3 separate regions of the Homo sapiens genome follow, and all the other regions are linked to region 3. Evidence: fine-mapped expression QTL. A gene starts in region 3. Each other region holds a variant in brackets. All regions are shown on one strand. Distances are from middle to middle.

What was found. PIP is the estimated chance that this variant, and not a neighbour inherited with it, causes the effect.
Region 1: its variant is the best candidate, but not a certain one, in a credible set for the expression of ANXA2 in whole blood (TOPMed, PIP 0.70).
Region 2: its variant is the best candidate, but not a certain one, in a credible set for the expression of ANXA2 in whole blood (INTERVAL, PIP 0.89).

What each region holds. Positions count from the first base shown.
Region 1 is chr15:60,461,364-60,466,363 of GRCh38, forward strand. The region is part of intron 5 of ICE2 (interactor of little elongation complex ELL subunit 2); the gene reads right to left. Among named protein-coding and RNA genes, the nearest start is that of ICE2, 15 kb to the right of the region's middle. The variant T/C (reference allele first, on the strand shown) is at 2,037.
Region 2 is chr15:60,423,625-60,428,624 of GRCh38, forward strand. ICE2 (interactor of little elongation complex ELL subunit 2) reads right to left here. Exons shown (of 16, transcript NM_024611.6): 15 at 4,805-5,000; 16 at 1-138. The coding sequence ends at 10. Among named protein-coding and RNA genes, the nearest start is that of ANXA2, 28 kb to the left of the region's middle. The variant TC/T (reference allele first, on the strand shown) is at 2,020.
Region 3 is chr15:60,393,941-60,402,676 of GRCh38, forward strand. It overlaps ANXA2 (annexin A2), which reads right to left and starts at 4,046. Exons shown (of 13, transcript NM_004039.3): 1 at 4,003-4,046. RefSeq lists enhancers at 2,392-2,983, 2,984-3,575, 3,069-3,118, 3,179-3,228, 3,249-3,438 and silencers at 3,599-3,738, 3,809-4,348, 4,469-4,778.

The DNA.
Region 1 (5,000 bases), 66 kb after region 3:
AGCAAATTAAAAAATCAGCAAAATACTTCAATAGACATTTCACAAAAGAAATGCACTTAAAATGAGTAATTTTTATATGTAAATTATACCTTAATAAAATTGTTTTAAAAATTAAATGTGGATTTAAAAGGGAGGCTTTAGTATTTAATGGCTACTATATGATGCTCTAACAATAAAAACACAGTGCAATCTTTTAAAAAATGTGGGGGAGAATGAGAAGAGCATAAGAAAAATAATTTCAACTGTTTTCAGTAATCGTATTGATCACTAGTATTAATATTGTTATTTTGAGGCTGTTGTGAGTGTAATGTGGGATAAAGCAAATGAGACATATGAGGTATTTTTCCTTTAAATCTATTTCCTAGTTCTATCCACTGAATTATTCTCAAAACAATGATCAACCCAGGAGCATCCATAGTGCCCAGATTGTAGTCTTGAAATATCATTTCACACTAAAAGAAACAAGGGCTCTTGAAAATGGCTGATTCCAGGGCCAGGGCAGGAAGTGTACAAAATGAGCCTCAAAGACTACCAGACTGACTGAAAAGCCAGTAGGAAGAGCCTCTCAGTGAGTTAATACTATTTGAGGCTTACAAAGGATAATAATCGTAGTGGACAGAAACACATATATATTTAACTCCATGATTTAATAATAACATTTTAAAAAAAGAAAAGACACCAACATTGGAGAATAAGAAGGAACTAATTTTTTTAAAAGTGGTATTTAAAAGGAAAGAATCTAGTATTTATTCTGCTACATGGTAAGCTACATGAACTGGGAAACCAAATAGTAAGTAAGGGAAAGCATATCTTTTAAAAAGTATTCCAATGAATAAATGATGCAATCAGAATATTACAACTGTGCAAACCACAGTGAATGAATACATCTAGGCAGTGAGCATTAACAGCTGGGGTGGTGGGGAAAATGTTAGTTGACATAAAATTTCAGTCAGGAGGAAAAATTCAAGAGATCAATTATAAAACATGGTGATGATAGTTAATTACAATGTATTGTGTTCTTGAAAACTGCTAAGAGAGTAGATTTTAAGTGTTCTCACAACAAAAAAACAGGTTTGTGAGGTAATGCATATGTTAATTAGTCCGGTTTGGCCTTTCCACAATGTATACATATTTAAAAAACATACAGTACAAAATAAATATATACAATTTTAACTTGTCAATAGAAAAAGATAAAATTCAAAACAGAAAAAGGAGAAAAACTGCAACATACATAGCCCATAAAGTTTTTGTATTTGGAATATACAAAGAAATCTTACATATCAATTAGAAAAAATGAACAGTCATTCTGCAAGAAAAAGTGAGCAGGAACATATGAAAACATGCGCTCTCTCTGGCTCTCGCTCTCCCTCTCTCTCTCCCTCTATATACATATATATATATGTCTGAGATGTGGAGCAACAGAACTCTTAAACACTGCTGGTTAGAATGTAAATTGATATAACCTGGTATAGCCACTTTGGAAAACCATTTGCAAATCTACTCAAGTTGAAGATACGCATACTCTATGACCGAATAATTCCACTTATAGGTATACAAACAGTTCCCAACTTATGAAGGTTCCACTAAATGATTTTCCAAATTTATGATGGTGCCAAACCATTGCAATTTTGTCACAACGTACAGCATTCAATAAATTACAAGACACTCAATAATTTATTATAAAATAGGCTTTGTGTTAGATGATTATGCCTAATTGTAAGTAAATATAAGTATTGTGAGCATATGTAGAGTAGGATAAAATACACTATGATATTTGGTAGATGAGGTGTATGCATCTTTAATTCATTACAGGTTTACTGAGATGTAACTCTATCGTGAGTCAAGAAGCATCTGTATATCGAACAGAAACGTGTGCGTATGTGTACCAAAAGAAATGTATGAGAATTTTCTTAAGAGTACTGCTTAGAATAAGCTCCCAAATGGAAACAACCCAAGTTCCGATCAACAGGATAAATTGTAATTTATTAATATAATGGAAAAATGGACAGAAATGAAAATGAATGAACTACAACTCA[T/C]ACAACCTAAGAATCAAAAAGCACAATACTGAATGAAAGAAGGAAGGCCCAAAAGGATTCTGTTCCCATAAAATTCAAAATCAGGCAAAAAGGGCCAAGCACGGTGGCTCACGCCTATAAACCAGCACTTTGGGAGGCCGAGGCAGGTAAATCGCCTGAGGTCAGGAGTTCGAGACCAGCCTGGCCAATACGGTGAAACCCCATTTCTACTAAAAACACAAAAATTAGCTGGGCGTGGTGGCAGGAGCCTGTAATCCCAGCTACTTGGAAGGCGGAAGCAGAACAGCTTGAACCCTGGAGGCAGAGGTTGCAGTGGGCTGAGATCGTGCCATTGCACTCTAGCCTGGGCGACAAGAGCGAAGCTCCGTCTCTTAAAAAAAGAAAAAAAAATCCCAACAAAATCAGGCAAAAGAGAAGTAGAACTACCACCCTCCATACACACACAAAAAGCACAGAACTTATCACCACCAAAGCTGGGACACTGATTATTCACTCAAGTAAGGAGAATGTTATTTATTATACAAGAGGACTACACAGGGGGCTTCTGAATTACTGGCATTATTTTATTTCTTGACCTGGACAAGAGTTACGTAGATGTTTACTATATAATTATCTGTTAAGCTGCATCTATTTTTTCTTTCGTTCTATATACTTTTCCATATGTACGTGACATTGTACAACATAAAATTTTAAAACTAAAAGATCTCAGAAAAATATCAGTGAATCTTTGGGATGGGGATGTAAAATACAACTTGGAGAAAATGTGCTGCCACATCAATATGGAAAAAAACATGATGATGTTTATCATTTATCATTAGCTACCAAGTAATGTACTTTGTTAATAAAGTACAGTTTTATATTCACCTAAGAAATATCTACATTGAGCACCTGAGCACTTAAGCGTGCCATACACTGTTCTAGTCATTGGAAGACCACGAGTGAATAAAACAGCACTTACAAAAAGGCACTGTTTTACAAAAACAGTGAGGGGAAGGACAATAAGCAAAAATAAAATGTGGTAAAGGGAAAAGTGAGGGTCATACTACATTCCATAGGGTAATCAGGGACACCCTCATTGATAGGTGACATCTGAACAGACAGAGACCTAAAAGAATCAAGACACTACTACACGCAGAAATCCGGGGAATAGATTGAGAAAAATAGAAACCCCAAATGCCAAAGGACTTAAGGCAGGACTATGCTTGCAGTATTGAAGAAATGTAAAGGCCAGTCCGCAGGTGGGGGAAGAATAACTGATAGGGCAATTTGTAGAAAGTGAGGATGGGGGATGGGAGGGAGGGGAGAGATCATGCAGGCCACTGTAGAACTTTGTAAAGACTCTTCCTAAGAAAGATGGGCTGTAATCCCAGCACTCTGAGAGGCTGACGCAGAAGGATTTTTGAGGTCAGGAGTTTGAGACCAGCCTGGTGAACACAGGAGGCCCTGTATCTAAAAAAAGTTAGCTGCAGTGGCATATGCCCATGTCCTTGTTATTCAGGAGGCTGAGCTGGGGAGGATCACTTGAACCCAGGAATTCAAGGCTGCAGTGAGCTAGGATTGTGCCACTGCACTCCAGCCTGGACTATGACTTATGTATTAAAAACATCATTCTGGTCTTTTAAAAGGCACTATCAAAACAAGAACAGCTGCCAGCTCCTTTTCCACATAGAAAATTATGACATTCCCTTTGGATATATTTAGGTTCACAGAAAATAAAAATCAAATTCGTTTATTTAGAAGAACCATTCTTCTGGTTCGTATTAACAGCAAAATTCTTCCTTACAGTGTTTTTTTTTTCCTTCCTTTTTCTGAGACAGGGTCACGTTCTGTCATCCAAGCTGGAGTGTAGCAGCACAATCAAGGCTCACTGCAGCCTCCACCTCCTGGGCTTAAGTGATCTTCCCACCTAAGCCTCCCAAGTAGCTGTGACTAGGACTACAGGCACATGCCACCATGCCAGATAATTCTTTTTGTATAGATGGGATTTTATTATGTTGCCCAGGTTAGTTTCAAATTACTGGGCTCAATCCTTCTGCCTCGGCCTCCCAAAGGGCTGAAACAATAGGTGTGAGTCACCGTGTCCGGACTTTTTAAAAAAACAGTGAAAGTGTAACACTCCTGCTGTCCTTCAACTTAGACTGGCTAGTTTTGTTTTTTTAAGCTACGGTAAAATTTACCACCTTATCCCTTTTTAAGTGTAGAGTTCAGTAGTGTTAAATATATTAACACTATTGTTCACAGTGACCAGCTTTAAAGGCTTAAACAAATTTAGACTGATATTTATAAACTCTACTACAAATATGTGTGTGTGTATATATATATAGTTATTATTTAAGTAGTATACTTTATTCTTTTTTTTTTTTTTTTTTGAGACAGGGTATCGCTCTGTCACCTAGGCTGGACTGCAATGGCACAATCTTAGCTCACTGCAAACCTCCACCTCCCGGGTTCAAGCGATTCTCCTGCCTCAGTCTCCTGAGTAGCTGGGATTACAAGCGCCCACCACCACGACTGGCTAATTTTGCTATTTTTAGTAGAGATGGGGTTTCACTATGCTGACCAGGCTGGTCTCGAACTCCTGACCTCAGGTGATCCACCCACCTCGGACTCCCAAAGTGCTGGGATTAGAGGTGTGAGCCACCACGCCTGGCCTGTTTAAGTAGTATACTTTAATTTTCTGGTAGGCTCAATGAATGATGGTAGGGTACAAGCTGGGATGATATACAGGTCTTACTAATAAATTTGCATGAATGAGTGAAGTATCCAAAAATGAACTCAGAGTTGAAATTTATCATTTTGTGGCTGGTTACCACAAACATAATGAGCACAAGTTCACTTGACCGAGTTTTAAAAGGCCATTCAGACTTTTAGGGACCAGGATAACGCTTTAAATGCTATTCTCTCACAAGGGAAGTCAGTGGGTCAGTTCAAACTATTATGTGAATAAAATGTAATGATACAATA
Region 2 (5,000 bases), 28 kb after region 3:
GTACAGTCCTCAAGTTATTTTTCTTTTATGTGGAGCCACTCCTTCAGTTTCAACTTGCTGAGCAGGCAAGCAACTGCTTTTGGTTTCCATGGAAACTGGATTCCTGTGGCTGCGTGTAGGCATTCTCGTTCCACCAATCTAAGAGATGAAGCAGAGAACAGAATAGCTTAATGTATCTACAACATACCTATATACAGTCAACTCTGTAGTATTTATACATGTATTAACCACCTTGCAAATAAGCTCTTATATATTTTTCATCTCCAGCTAGCTGGCTGTTTCTAAACAAGTTTTAATCTGACACATTTTTAAGTACTAAACTTTCAAATAACCATCAGAGAAGTTGATAGATCTGAGTAGATGGGGAGCAAAGTGAATGGGGAAACTATTCTCTGTGTTAAATTTATTAGAGGTTGAAAAGATAAATTAGAAATCAAGGGAATGACAGGCCTTATGTGTGATGTGTTTGAAATAATTAAACTGAAGGACAAGAAAAAGGAAGGAGTAATAGGGAGGGAGCGAAAGGAAATACAAGAAGGTCAGAGGTGGTAAACAGGGAGAAGAAATTACATGGACAAACAAGAAAGATAATAAGAAGGGTAGGGAAGATAAGGAAAGAAAATTGAGGAAAGAGATGAAGATTAAGAAAAAGGGAAGTAAAAAAAAAACAGTAAAAGTGTAAGGAAGTTTCAAGACAAGAACCCAAGTAGCAGGGAAATCCTGAAGGGCTGAAAGAGGAGAGCAAGAAAGAAATAAGAAAAGGGGAAGAAAAAACTGGAAGGGGGAATACAGAGGATGGGGGAAGGAACTTTGCTGTGGTTCTACCTTCAAGTCTACCCTTCCTTACCCTCACTTTCTAGCTCACACAGTCAAAGAGAGGTGGTCTATTTTTTTTCTTTTGAGACAGAGTCTCGCTCTGTCACCCAGGCTGGAGGACAGTTGGCGCGATCTCTGCTCACTGCAACCTCCACCTCCTGGGTTCAAGCGATTCTCCTGACTCCAGACTCCTGAGCAGCTGGGATTACAGGTGTGTGTCACCATGCCTGGCTAACTTTTGTATTATTAGTAGAGATGGGGTTTCACCATGTTTAGGCTGGTCTGGAATTCCTGACCTCAAGTGATCTGCCCGCCTCAGCCTCCCACAGTGCTGGGATTATGGGCATGAGCCACCGCGCCCAGCCAAGGTGGTCTATTCTTAATACAGAATCCCTTGCTATGTAGTCATGTTAAAGATGTGATCTATAAAAACAGTAATGGAGAAGGCCAATCTCACAGAGAAGGACCAAAGCTGTATAGCCTGAAACTATTTCCACAGAACCTGCCCATATCTGCCTTTATTTTCCCTGGCCACCTTGTTCTCCTCTATTTCTTCATATCCCGTCCAGTCAATTTCAGGCCTGGGACTGAAGGGTGATAGTGTAACTCCAAGCACTCTCTCTCATAATGCTAGCCCAACAGAAATACTATTGGCATTTGCTCCAAGGGGTTACAGACTCACTGAAAAAGCTCGGACTCTGGCTTCCTTTATTTAATATCTACTGTCCCTTTAAAAAGCATTTTTTTTTATTTACATTTACCTGACCAGAAAGGACAAATTGAGTACAGATTTGTCTGTGTGAATCTGATGAAATTTTGTAATATACTGATTAGAAAAGTGCTGCGACTTTTGGATGATCTATACCACTCCTCACTCAGCTGGTATTTCCTATAAAGGTATATTGACCACACTAATTCTATCTGTTAAAATTTTTGAGAAAAGCAAGCATTTTGAAAACCTCCACTGCAAGACTGTGTGTGTCTGAATGTGTAAAATAAATGTTTATTACAGAAGATGTAGAAAGAAAAAAGGGATAAGTGTGAAGCTGCTGCAAGAAAGACTGGAAGCAGAAGTCAAAAGTAGCCCAGGAAGCAAATGGGACCCTTAAATACAATCTCTACTTGATGCAGTAGGGAGGCAGATGCAGGCTCTACTGGCATATCTCTCAGGGTTAGTACCAAAGGCACTATACAAGGATGAGA[TC/T]AGAGTTCAAGTGGACTCGTGACTATGGGATCACATTAGAGGCAGAAACGTTTGAACAAATTTTTACACCATGAAAATATGCAGATGATTTCTATTTCATATAGGTCTTACTTCCCTGGTTTCCTGAAAGCTGTCATCTTACCATTGCTGCTAAAACTAGAATCCATATTTGCACTTAGATTGGTTGGGACTAGAAGGCCCAATCCCATGGCCTAGCTAGGAGGTAGGGAAGAAGATGGGGTAATTCCTATCAAACACAGGGCTAGATTGTGGGGAGGTGAGTAGATCACCAAAAACTTTCCACTGGCTTTCAAAAATATATCAAACCAACTATTAGTTATCTAATTGTCCACTGTACCTAATGCTGGGCTCTACAACAACCTGGGCCTGGATAATCTCGTTAAGTATTTGTTCCTGGACTGAATGCATGAAGCACACTCCGTGATACACATGTAATTGAACTGTTGTAATTATGTGGCCAAATTGTGAACATATGGAATTTCTCCTTTTCCAAATACAGTCACATTTTGGTCAAAATGAACTACATATACAACAGTGGTCCCAAAAGATTATAATGGAGCTGAAAAATTTCTATCATCTAGTGATGTCACAGCTGTTACAACATAACAGTGCAATGTATTACCTTGTCTACGTTTAGATATCCAAATACCAGTGTATTACAACGGCATACAGTATTCAGTACAGCAACATGCTGTACAGGTCTGTAGACTACCTAACAGCAATAGGCTATACCATACGGCCTAAGTGTGTAGTAGACTACACCCTCTAGGTTTGTGTAAGTAAGCTTATGGTATTTAAACAAAGACAAAATTGCCTAGTGCTGCATTTCTCAGAATGTATCCCTGTCGTTAAGTGATACATGACTACAAATTGTGTTATTGTACTAAAGCACATTCTAGACATTATTTAAAAAAAATCAAATCATTAAAGTATTTCCAAAGCATAAAGCATTCAACACTATTTTAGTGTCAGTCTATATCAATAAGGAAAGTATATTACTCATTTTTTTAGAAACACCTTGCACACACATAATACATTTTTCCTTTCACTTAAAGTTGTTCAATTCCAAGGTATTAAACTGTTCATTTTCACTAAAAAGGAATAAACCACTCCCACACAGAATTACATGTTATAGGTGAGAGACTATAATCAGTGTTTCTAAATTAAAAGGAAATCATTCTCCTAGAAAAACACAGATCCTTCAAAAATAGTTCTTCAATTATTTTTGAGTTACTTAAGAAAATTTTTCCTTAGGTTATAAAAGTTACTACTTCTAGTAAACTGGAAACAGACAACCAAAACTGAAGATAAAATAGCTTAAAATGCTAACAAGTAACTTTCTCCATTCTTTCACTTGTCCCAACTTAACATTTATATTTTCTTGGCCAAAGCTAAGTAGGAATGTACAAGGAGTTCTCATTTCTAAAAGGATACTCCCAAACAGTAACTTAGAGTGGAGAACTGAAAGACATAAACAAACAACCCTGTTTACTTTAAATTATTTAAAAATCCTCAGTATTTGCATTCCAGCTGTTTCTCATAAGGATTTGAGGACATTTACAGATTAATTCAGTATAGTACAGACAGTGAAAAGGAAGAATACACAAGTGATAGATGCTCTGGGGCAACCATAATGAGAAGATAATGACTCAGACAATAATTCTGACTCAAAGACTTTTGGCAGTAAGTAAGGAAAATATACTGGATCGTGTCCTGAACACATTCAGAGTCATTTGTAGAGAGCAAAACTTTTTTCTTTCCTTTTCTTTTTTTGAGACAGAGTCTCGTTCTGTAGCCCAGGCTGGAGTGCAGTAGAGTGATCTTGGGTCACTGCAACCTCTGCCTCCCAAGTTCAAGCGATTCTCCTGCCTCAGCCTCTCCAGTAGCTGGAAATGATTACAGGTGTGCACCATGATGCCAGGCTAATTTTTGGTAGAGATGGGGTTTCACCATGTTGGTCAGGCTGGTCTCAAACTGCTGACCTCAAATGATCCACCCGCCTTGGCCTCCCAAAGTCCTGGGATTATAGGTGTGAGCCACTGCGCCCAGCCCAGTGCAAAACTTTTCTAACAACTAAACTCGAACTGGAATTTCCTACACAATATACAGAATGAGTGACATAGCAGAGAATAACTCTAGCTATGGGTTTATAAGCTTCAGATAATGTCATTCAACTGTTACTTTTGGCAAGGGTTCTATAAAGAGAGTAATGTTAATTGTAATTCAGTAAATACTGAGTTACATAATACCTAGAAAGACACAATTTAGTCCTTGATACTTTAGGTATATTTTTAATTAGGCACTCTGTTCACAAACTGCTATTACTTCTTTTTCCTCATCCTAATTAACAATGTTTAATTATATCATAATTTTATTACATGTACTCTTCCGCAAATTGCCTAAAATACTTAATGAAATGAAACCCAGTATATATAAATAAAAATTACAAAAAACCCCACAACTTTGCTTTTCATAGGAATATAAGGGTTTAACTACATGGATGCCTTACCCATACACCCACTGTGCAAGCTAAGAGAGTTTTCTTTAGTTGACTTATAAATCTTGCAAAAATAAAAAAGTTCCACTACCACGAAGACTGGACTCACCATGGCATACAACTTTATCCTTCCTATGGATATAGCTTTTAGAATGGTGCTGTGATTAATATGACAATGAGAACATCAGGGTGAAATACGGTAAAGTCAGTGAAATAGACGAATAATAAACAACCTAATGAACCTTTAATTTCAAAAAAGATCTTACCTTTTGTTGTGTTGTGGTATCCAGTGATTTCGGTGGAAAAGTACAAGGTATTCTTCCATGATGGATATGATATGGTAATAACAGGCTGGGATCTAATGGGACCCAGGGAACTGAGAGACTGGAAGGTACACCAGGAAGGCCGCAATGTGTTTTATACAAATTGTATGCTGTCCTAGTAACTTTTCCATCAGAGGCC
Region 3 (8,736 bases):
TCCTTCCTCAATTTTCTCTCTCCCTCAGACTGGACATTTCGAATGCAGTTCCAGTTCCGTGCATTCAGAGTTGGAGGCTTAAATCACCAACTTCTGCAAATCTTAGCAAAGCCCAGCAGGTCGCTTCAGGGCAGCCTCTTATCAACATATAGCCATGCCCCCCACCTCTGTGCTGTCAGGGATACTTGGACCCTAGCTCTGTCCATAGGACCACATGGGAACGTAACCTACAACTCCTAGCAAGAAGGCAGCAAAGAGGCAGGATGTACGAGTGGCCTTAGGACTCTGATTTCCTCTGAGCTGTGAGTGTATAGCCTGGGTGTGGCAGGGAGACAAAGGACATGGACAAAGGGCTCCATAACACAGTCACTCCCTAGAATAAGAAATTTCTACACCACACCTGGGGTAAAACTCAGGCCACTTGGGTGCTACCGACCTGTCCAGTTGAGCTCAGCTGGATTAAAAGCTTCAGGGTGGGCCAGGCATAGTGGCTCACGCCTGTAATCCCAGCAGTTTGGGAAGCCGAGACAGGCGGATCACTTGAGCTCAACAGTTCCAGACCAGCCTGGCCAACATGATGAAACCCTGTCTCTACTAAAAATACAAAGATTAGCCCGGCATGGTGGTAGGCACCTGTAATCCCAGCTACTCGGGAGGGTGAGGCTGGAGAATCACTTGAACCTGGGAGGCGGAGGCTACAGTGAGGAGAGATCGTGCGACTACACTCCAGGCTGGGTGACAGAGCCAGGCTCCATCTCAAAAGAAAAAAAAAAGAAAAAAAAAAACAGCTTCAGGGTGTACCCTAGAAGGGAGATTTGGAAGTCATCTGGTAGAACCACCCAGAAGGACAAATATGGGCATCTCCTGACCCCTACTGCTGACCTGTCCCTGGAGAAAGTAGATGAGGACTGCCTCTGGCAACAGCAGAAGAAAAAAGATACCAGGCAGTGAATGGGTGGAAAGAATTTTTTTGAAGGACTGGAATTTCCTCTGGTGTGGCCTACAACTAGAATAGGGTGTGGCACCAGGGCAAGTGAAGAGGATTCTCATGTGAAAAAAAAGAGGAACATTCCATTTCTATTTAATTCTCACAATTGAATCTGGAAGGCAGCTTAAGACACCATAATTTTAAGCAAAACTTCCCCGAGGTAGGTAAAATGTGAAGTTTAGGTCTGTGGAACAGCTGGATTAAAGGGGAAATGAACTCCCACCAAGTTTAGAAACTAGTATTAATTTGGGAAAATATAAAGTTTAAAATCCAACAATTCACTTATTTTGTCTCTTTTCCTTCTCTCTCCGCCAGATTTAAGGTCTAAAGAGCAGGGATTTTATTTTTGGCGGGGGTCTGTTTTGTTCACTGCTGTATCCCTAGTGCTCATAACTATGAGTGGAACACAGTAGGTAATTAATATTTTGTGGAATAAATGGTTGTTTAAAGCAGCCCACTAGAGCCTGAGACTCCTTTTGTGACAATCCCGCTCTCCTTTAATGAAAAATGTCTCCGCAGGCTCCAGGCTCTGCACAAGCGAAGGGTGAGAACAAAGGCTCCAGACAATGCATTAGTGCCAGATTCTAGGCCCAGTGGTGTAGGAAGAGCCTACAGCCCTCAAAATCAATAGCAATTATAGAAGCACATCTACTTTGCCAGGAAAACTACTTAAATCAGAAATTAGCCAGGAAACTAACGGCCATGACTGCGAGCCTAATGTCAATCAATACCATAGTTTAATAGCTCAAAGACACAAGATGCTAAATATTGAGACTCCAGTGCAAGACTGAGCTCCTAATCAAAGTCAGTGAGTCAGCAATATTTCCTGGGCATTTACCACAGGCAGTCTAGTTGGCACTGCGGGAAATTACAAAATCTAAACGGTCTCCAAATCACAAACCTCCAATTGTAAAAATGCACATACATGTCACATCCTTCCACTGCAGATGCAAGGGACATTTTTGGACAAACCCTTGACCTTTAGATAATCGACAGACTTGGAAGAAGGGAAGAAATTACTAAGCAGGACTGTGTTAACACTCCTGGCCCTTGCCCATCAAGGGCACCTCTGCTGCCCCAGTCTTACCAAAAATCTTCCTTAATATTGCCTGAATATTGCTGCTTTACATTCTATAAATTATAGATCTGTTTAGGTGAACGAGGGTTTTTTATTATTATTATGTATTTATTTTTTGAGACTGGGTCTTGCTATGTTGCTCACATTGGCCTTGGACTCAAGAGATCCACTAGCTTGAGCAGCTGGGACTACAGGCCCACGACCACGCCCAGTATCGTTGTTTTTTAAATAACAAGACTCCTCTCGGTTGCTGAGGCTCTTAGGACCACCAACCATTCCTAACTTAATGAATATCGATTCAATCTGCTAGTCTCTAGCTGGATGCAGGTCCGCCGAAATGGGAAGGAGGAAGGAATGCAGCGTAACTGGACCGGCCTGGATGGCTGTTGTAATGCGTCACGGAAGAGCCAGAAGAGCGTCTCTAAGGAGGTGGAAGGTGGAAAAAAGAAAGTGGAACAGGGGCAAAGACATAATTTTCCAATTAAAATAATTTACTCAGTGTCAACCTTAAAGCTAAAAAAAGTTCCAGAAAAATATTTCAGTGATTTAGTCTTCCTACACACACATTGCCCCTCACTACCCTCCACCTCCCCACCACCAATCCCATAATCAGGCAGTGCATGTTAAAAAGGTCTTTCAGGGCTAGCCTGGGAACGTCAGCACCTTCTGCAACACTGTTTCAGTGGGAAAGTGCATTCTGCATTCCAAGTCACCAAGTTCCAGACAGGCACAGTAGCACACACGTGTGAACAGAATCCATCAGTACAGTCTGGGGCCCAGGCCTTTGCACACCAACAACTTAAGGTTCTTGGTAATGGCCCAGCGTGCACCCATGAGGCCACTGCTCTTTTACACACGCACTCAGAACACCCACAGCTTTAAAACGGCAATCTTACTACAAAAATGACACTTTGCATTTGCACAGCACTTTGTTTTTTGTGTACTTTACACATTTATTACCTAATGACTGTGTTTTTTGAAATCTCCAATAACTCTGGGTGGTGGTAAGAATAGGCATCCTTAAGCCACCTTCCCAGATGAGGAAACTTATCTGTGTTCCCCTCCTTCTTCTCAACAGCCGGCTGATGGAACCCAAGCCCTCCACACCAGCAGTGGGGCCAGCTGCACAGAGCGGCCAGAAGGGAGAGGCCCCGGGGCCACGCCCTTCTCTCTACTCTCAGTTCCTGACTCATTGTCACATCATGGCGAGTAACAGGACAACCCTCCCCACAGAATCATGGGGGACACTACCTTCCTGAGGCCAATGTGTTCAACCAAGCGGGAAACTCTCCGGGTAGAGTGAAATCCGAAGTTGCTATGCTACAAGATAACCTAGAGCAAGGGGAATAACTGACGTTTTAATGTCTTCTTTTATGGGGGGCTGAGGGGTGCCTACTCACACTCCCCCCTCTCGTCTTCCCCCGCTACTTCCCTCCTGCTGGTCGGTTCAACTCCACAAGCGCGCGTTTGTTTCGAGTACAGTAACTTAGAGCAGATGGGGGGCACTTTCTAGAGGGCAGTGGAAAGCCCACTTGCTACTGCTGCGCCGGGGACCTGCGGCTCCCTGGGCGGCCACGCCCTGCCTCGGCGGCGCCTGGCGCGTCTGGAATGCGGGGCCTCCCTCCGCCCCTCTCCCCACGCCGCCTCGCCCCGCTCCCGCTAGGGCTTCTTAGAGAAGCCCGACCCCCCACCACCTCTGCCCTGCACCCTCCCGGCCCGAGGGCCGGTGGCCCCTCACCCCTGCCCCAAACACCTTGTCCCTGAGCCCCCTCCCCAAAGACTCTCCAGTGCCGGCCGTCCCTTCAGCCCCCTGCCCCCGACGGCCTCCGGGGCCAGTTGCCGGGGCCTCCCTGCCAGGCCGTACCCTTCTTCCCAGCGTCTCCACACCCCGCTAGCTGGCGGCCCATCGCGGGCGGGCAGGGCGCGCCCCGCTTACCTGGGCCGTGCGCCGAGAGCTGAGAGCGTCCCCAAATGCTGAGCAGAGCCGGCTGGCCTGGGTGGGGCTTTTATACCCGCCACATCCTCCCTAGGCGAGGCGAGGCCCGCCCCGCCCCGCCCCGCCTCCCCCTTACACGGCCCGCTCCCACCCCAAGTCAGGGGTGACTCACCCCGGCCCGCCGGCCCGCAGGGACCGCGCCCTGGAACGCTCCCGAGCCGCGCCACGCGGGAGCGGCCCCAGCGCCCCTGGCCCTGCCCTCCGAGAAAGCCCGGCCGAGGCTGCCCCGAGGCCCACAGGGACCCCGTTTCTTCCTCCTTTCCTCATTTTACTTCTTAAGTGCCACGTCGAGCTCTCAGCCTCGGCTTGGGTTAATAAATTAACAAGACTTTAGTAGTAGACTCTGGGCTTGATTAAGTGTTTTTTTTTTTTTTTTTTTTTTTTTGGCGTTAATGCAATGGAGGAAAGAATTGTTCCAAGAAACATAAATCTGGACTCCCCTGAGCTGGGGCTGTTGGCATCCAGCGCCCCATTACCGTCTGCAAACATGTCAGCTTAACCTCTGGCCGCCAGTTCCCGGGGGGCGCCCGGGGAGGGAGGGAGATTCGCCCTGTGCTGCAAAGCCTGGCCCGCCCCGGCCTCCGAGGGCCAGGAAGCCCCGAGCCTGGGCTGGGAGGCCAAAGCCGGGAGCCAGGATCCCACCTCAGTCCCGCCCAGGGTGGCGCCCCTGTCCCTAGCACGGCTGTGCTCCGCTTCTCTCCGCGCCTGGGGCATCTCTGCGCGGCCTCGTAGCAGGCAGTCCTGAGCGGGGTGGGGCCCATAGCTTTGAACCCGGAGTTTCGTGTGTGTGTGTGTGTGTGTGTGTGTGTGTGTGTGTGTGTGTGTGTGTGTGTTTCGAACCCGGAGTTTCAACAAAGAACTTTCCTCTCCTTCTTTCATGACTGCTGGGGTGTGTGTGTGCGTGTGTGGTGTGTGTGTGTGTGTGTGTGTGTTTCTTGCAGCCGTTTAGCCAACTCCCTTGCTCGGTGTTGCTGTTACTCGCTTTTCTTCCGAGAGAGAGAGAGAGAGAGAGAGAGAGAGAGTTTCTTGCAGCACAGAGAGAGAGAGAGAGAGTGAGATAGAGAGTTTCTTGCAGCCAGTTAGCCAACTCCCTTGCTCGGTTTTGCTGTTTCTCACTTTTCTTCCGTGTGTGTGTGTGTGTGTGTGTGTTTCTTGCAGCCGTTTAGCCAACTCTCTTGCTCGGTTTTGCTGTTTCTCGCTTTTCTTCCGTGTGTGTGTGTGTGTGTGTGTGTGTGTGTGTGTTTCTTGCAGCCGTTTAGCCAACTCCCTTGCTCGGTTTTGCTGCTTCTCGCTTTTCTTCCAAGAGTCACGTTGGCAACGTGCAGGCAGACACCTATTTGTTGTATGTGAGACGACGCAAATACTGTATTCGAACCTCAAACTAACAGGAAAGCGACGCTGAGAATCCCGAGGATCTCTGGCTGCGTTTTTTAAACCCCTCCTTGCACACTACTTCCTGCAGCTCTTTTTCCTGGTTTTGATGATTCTGTGTTTCAATCTCCCATTTATCTTAACATCCATTTTTACTTTCCATTTGAGCGTCAATTCACTCCTGGGAATCAGAGAATGATAGCAAGGCCAACAGACATTCAGTGCTCTGCCCACTCGCATAGAGTGACACAGGCAAAGTCGGCCACAGCTGAGGTCTTTTAACCCGCCCAAAGCTTTCTGTTACCCAGCGCTTTCACGAGGAATTATACGCGATGGGCCCTACCACAGAGCCAAATAGAAAATCAAGCAACACTTTGGGTACAATTGCTGATTTACATTTATAGCTCTTCAATTTAGCCTGAAAGCTTCAAAGTCAGAAACAATGTTTATCTGCTTACTTTGTGTGAACATTTTGGAAGGTTAGGGGAACACAGGCAGACAGTAATATTGGGCACGATTCAGCCTCCCTTCTGTGTATCTCAAGATAGGTTCCACAGTCTCTTACTCCTAATCGTGCTGTGATAGGCCCTTTACAGAAGATAAAATTTAATTCAAATCATGTGGAATATATAAAAGCCATCAAATGTCCAAAAGAGTTTTGTGCTCATCTTGGGCATGCCACAAATTCTAACTTCTATAGATTTGTACAATCACCAGTCTTTGCATCATGCTAAAGAAATGTGCACTGATGTTATCATAAAAATGAAGCTATTAGAAGTCATAGTTTGCTATTTCTGAGGAATGTGAGGCCAGTTCTTCCAGTATAAAAGATCTTTTATTAGTCAGAAGACTCTATTTTCCCCCCTGGTTGAGGAGAATGTTTACATCAGCCCTCAGATTGTCTGCTGTTGTCCATATTGCTCTCTAAGTGCTTGACTTTGTTTTGTTCACACTTCATCTGCTGCACTCAACACCTACTAGCGCCTAGCTAGCAATGATAGGCACTCACTAAATGTGATAGAATGATAAAATACAATTATTCACTGAATAATAGAATGTTAAAGCAGGGAGGGACCCTAGAGATTAAATTGCCCTATCCTTGATTTTTACTATTATTATTCTTATATCTTTTAGTTGAGATCTCACACTGTCACCCAGGCTGGAACGCATGGCATGATTAGGGCTCACCGCAGCCTTGACTGCGGAGGCTCAAGAAATCCTCTCCTCTCAGCCTCTTGAGTAGCTGGGACCACAGGCCCACGCCACCAAGCCTGGCTAATTTTTCTATTATTTGTAGAGACGACAAAGTCTTGCTATGCTGCTCAGGCTGGTCCCGAACTTCTGGGCTCAAGTGATCTGCCTACCTTAGCCTCCCAAAGTTCTAGGATTACAGGCGTGAATTACTATACCCGGCTCTTGATTTTTACATATGAAGAAATTGGAGTCCAAATAAAATCTCCTGCCCAGTCCAGGGATTAAATAATGCACCCAAGGCCCTCGTATCAGTTACCTTTGCAGTATAACAAATTATCCCCATAAACTTAGTGGTTAAACATAACCATTTACTTGCTTGTAATTCTGCAATTTAAGCAGGACACCCAGTGGGGACAGCTTGGTGCTCCTCCACAGCATGTTGGGTTGGGTAGCTTAGTTGGGGTTGGAAGATTGAAAGCAGCTTCATTCGTCTGGCGCCTGAGCTGGGATTGCTAGAATGACAAAGAGCAGGCTGGGCCTTTCTCTTCCTTGGTCTTACATCCTCCAGGTTCTCCTCTTTTGCTACACCACGGTAGTCATGGCAGCCAGCCTTCTAGAAGCAAAAGCTGAAGCTGCCAGGCCTCTTGGCTCACAGGCTGTGCAAAAACAAGCAATAGGCTGGATTTGCCCTATGGGCTGTAGTTTGCTGATCCTTGTTTTAATCCATTGCCCTACTCAAGTTTTTGGTTTTGCCCTCTGATATCTAGGCTCCTCCCTTTAAGATGTATTTCCTTTTCTTAAGAATGGCCCAGGCCAGGCATGGTGGCTCACGCCTGTAATCCCAGCACTTTGGGAGGCTGAGGAGGGCAGGTCATGAGGTCAGGAGATCAAGACCAGCCTGACCAACATGGTGAAACCTCATTTCTACTAAAAATACAAAAAATTAAGCTGGGCGTGGTGGCGGGCGCCTGTAGTCCCAGCTACTCGGGAGGCTGAGCAGCAGGAGAATGGCTTGAACCCAGGAGGGGGAGGTTGCAGTGAGCTGAGATCGCACCACTGCACTCCAGCATGGGTGACAGAGCGAGACTCCGTCTCAAGAAAAAAAAAAAAAAAAAGAATGGCCCATATTTGTAGCTGAGCAGTTCTCTCAGTCTGCTTCATTCATGCCAGGAGAAACTGAAAGGTCTAGAAACTTCTTTTCATTTTGCACTTTTTCTGGTTTAAGCTGGCAGTTGTTTCATTAATACAAGTATCTTAAAAACCATGTAGATTTTCCATATCTTATTAAGGTTCACACCATGCTCCAAGATTTATATACAATTTTCTCAAAAACTTTATTTATATAAATCTTGCTGAGGTTTAATTCCATGTTCCAAGATTCACATTCATTTTTTTTTTTTTAAATAGATCTCTCTCTACTTTACATGTCAGGCTGCAGTGGGACAATGCACTTAAGATTCTTAGAAGCCCTGAGATCGTCTTCGAAGTACCACATTAAATCTTTCTTGGAGTCTTTAAAAAGAAGTTTTTGCCGGGCGTGGTGGCTCACACCTGTAATCCCAGCACTTCGGAAGGCCAAGGCGGGTGGATCACAAGGTCAAGAGATTCAGACCATCCTGGCCAACATGGTGAAACCCTGTCTCTACTAAAAATACAAAAATTAGCTGGGCTTGGTAGCGCGTGCCTGTAATCTCAGCTACTCAGAAGGCTGAGGGAGGAGAATCGCTTGAACCTGGGAGGCGGAGGTTGCAGTGAGCCAGGATTATGCCACTGCATTCCAGCCTGGCAACAGAGTGAGACTCCGTCTCAAAAAAAAAAAAAAAGATTAAAAAATGTATAAAGAATGTCTGGTATATTGTAGGTGATGAAAAAAGCCATAGTTATTTCATTGGCTTTTTTAGTCTTTGCAGCAGCTGGCCTTGCTGAACGCATAGTAAGACCTCAATAAATCCTTGTTGAATTCACGTGTCATGACCCAAACCACACAGAGTACTCTTGGTATGGACAAACCACAATGTCTATTTTGTTTGGAGGCATTTCCAGGGAAAAATCTGCAGTGACTTCAATGTCTCTTTCTCAGCTGTAACAGACATTTTTGACCTCAGTTCA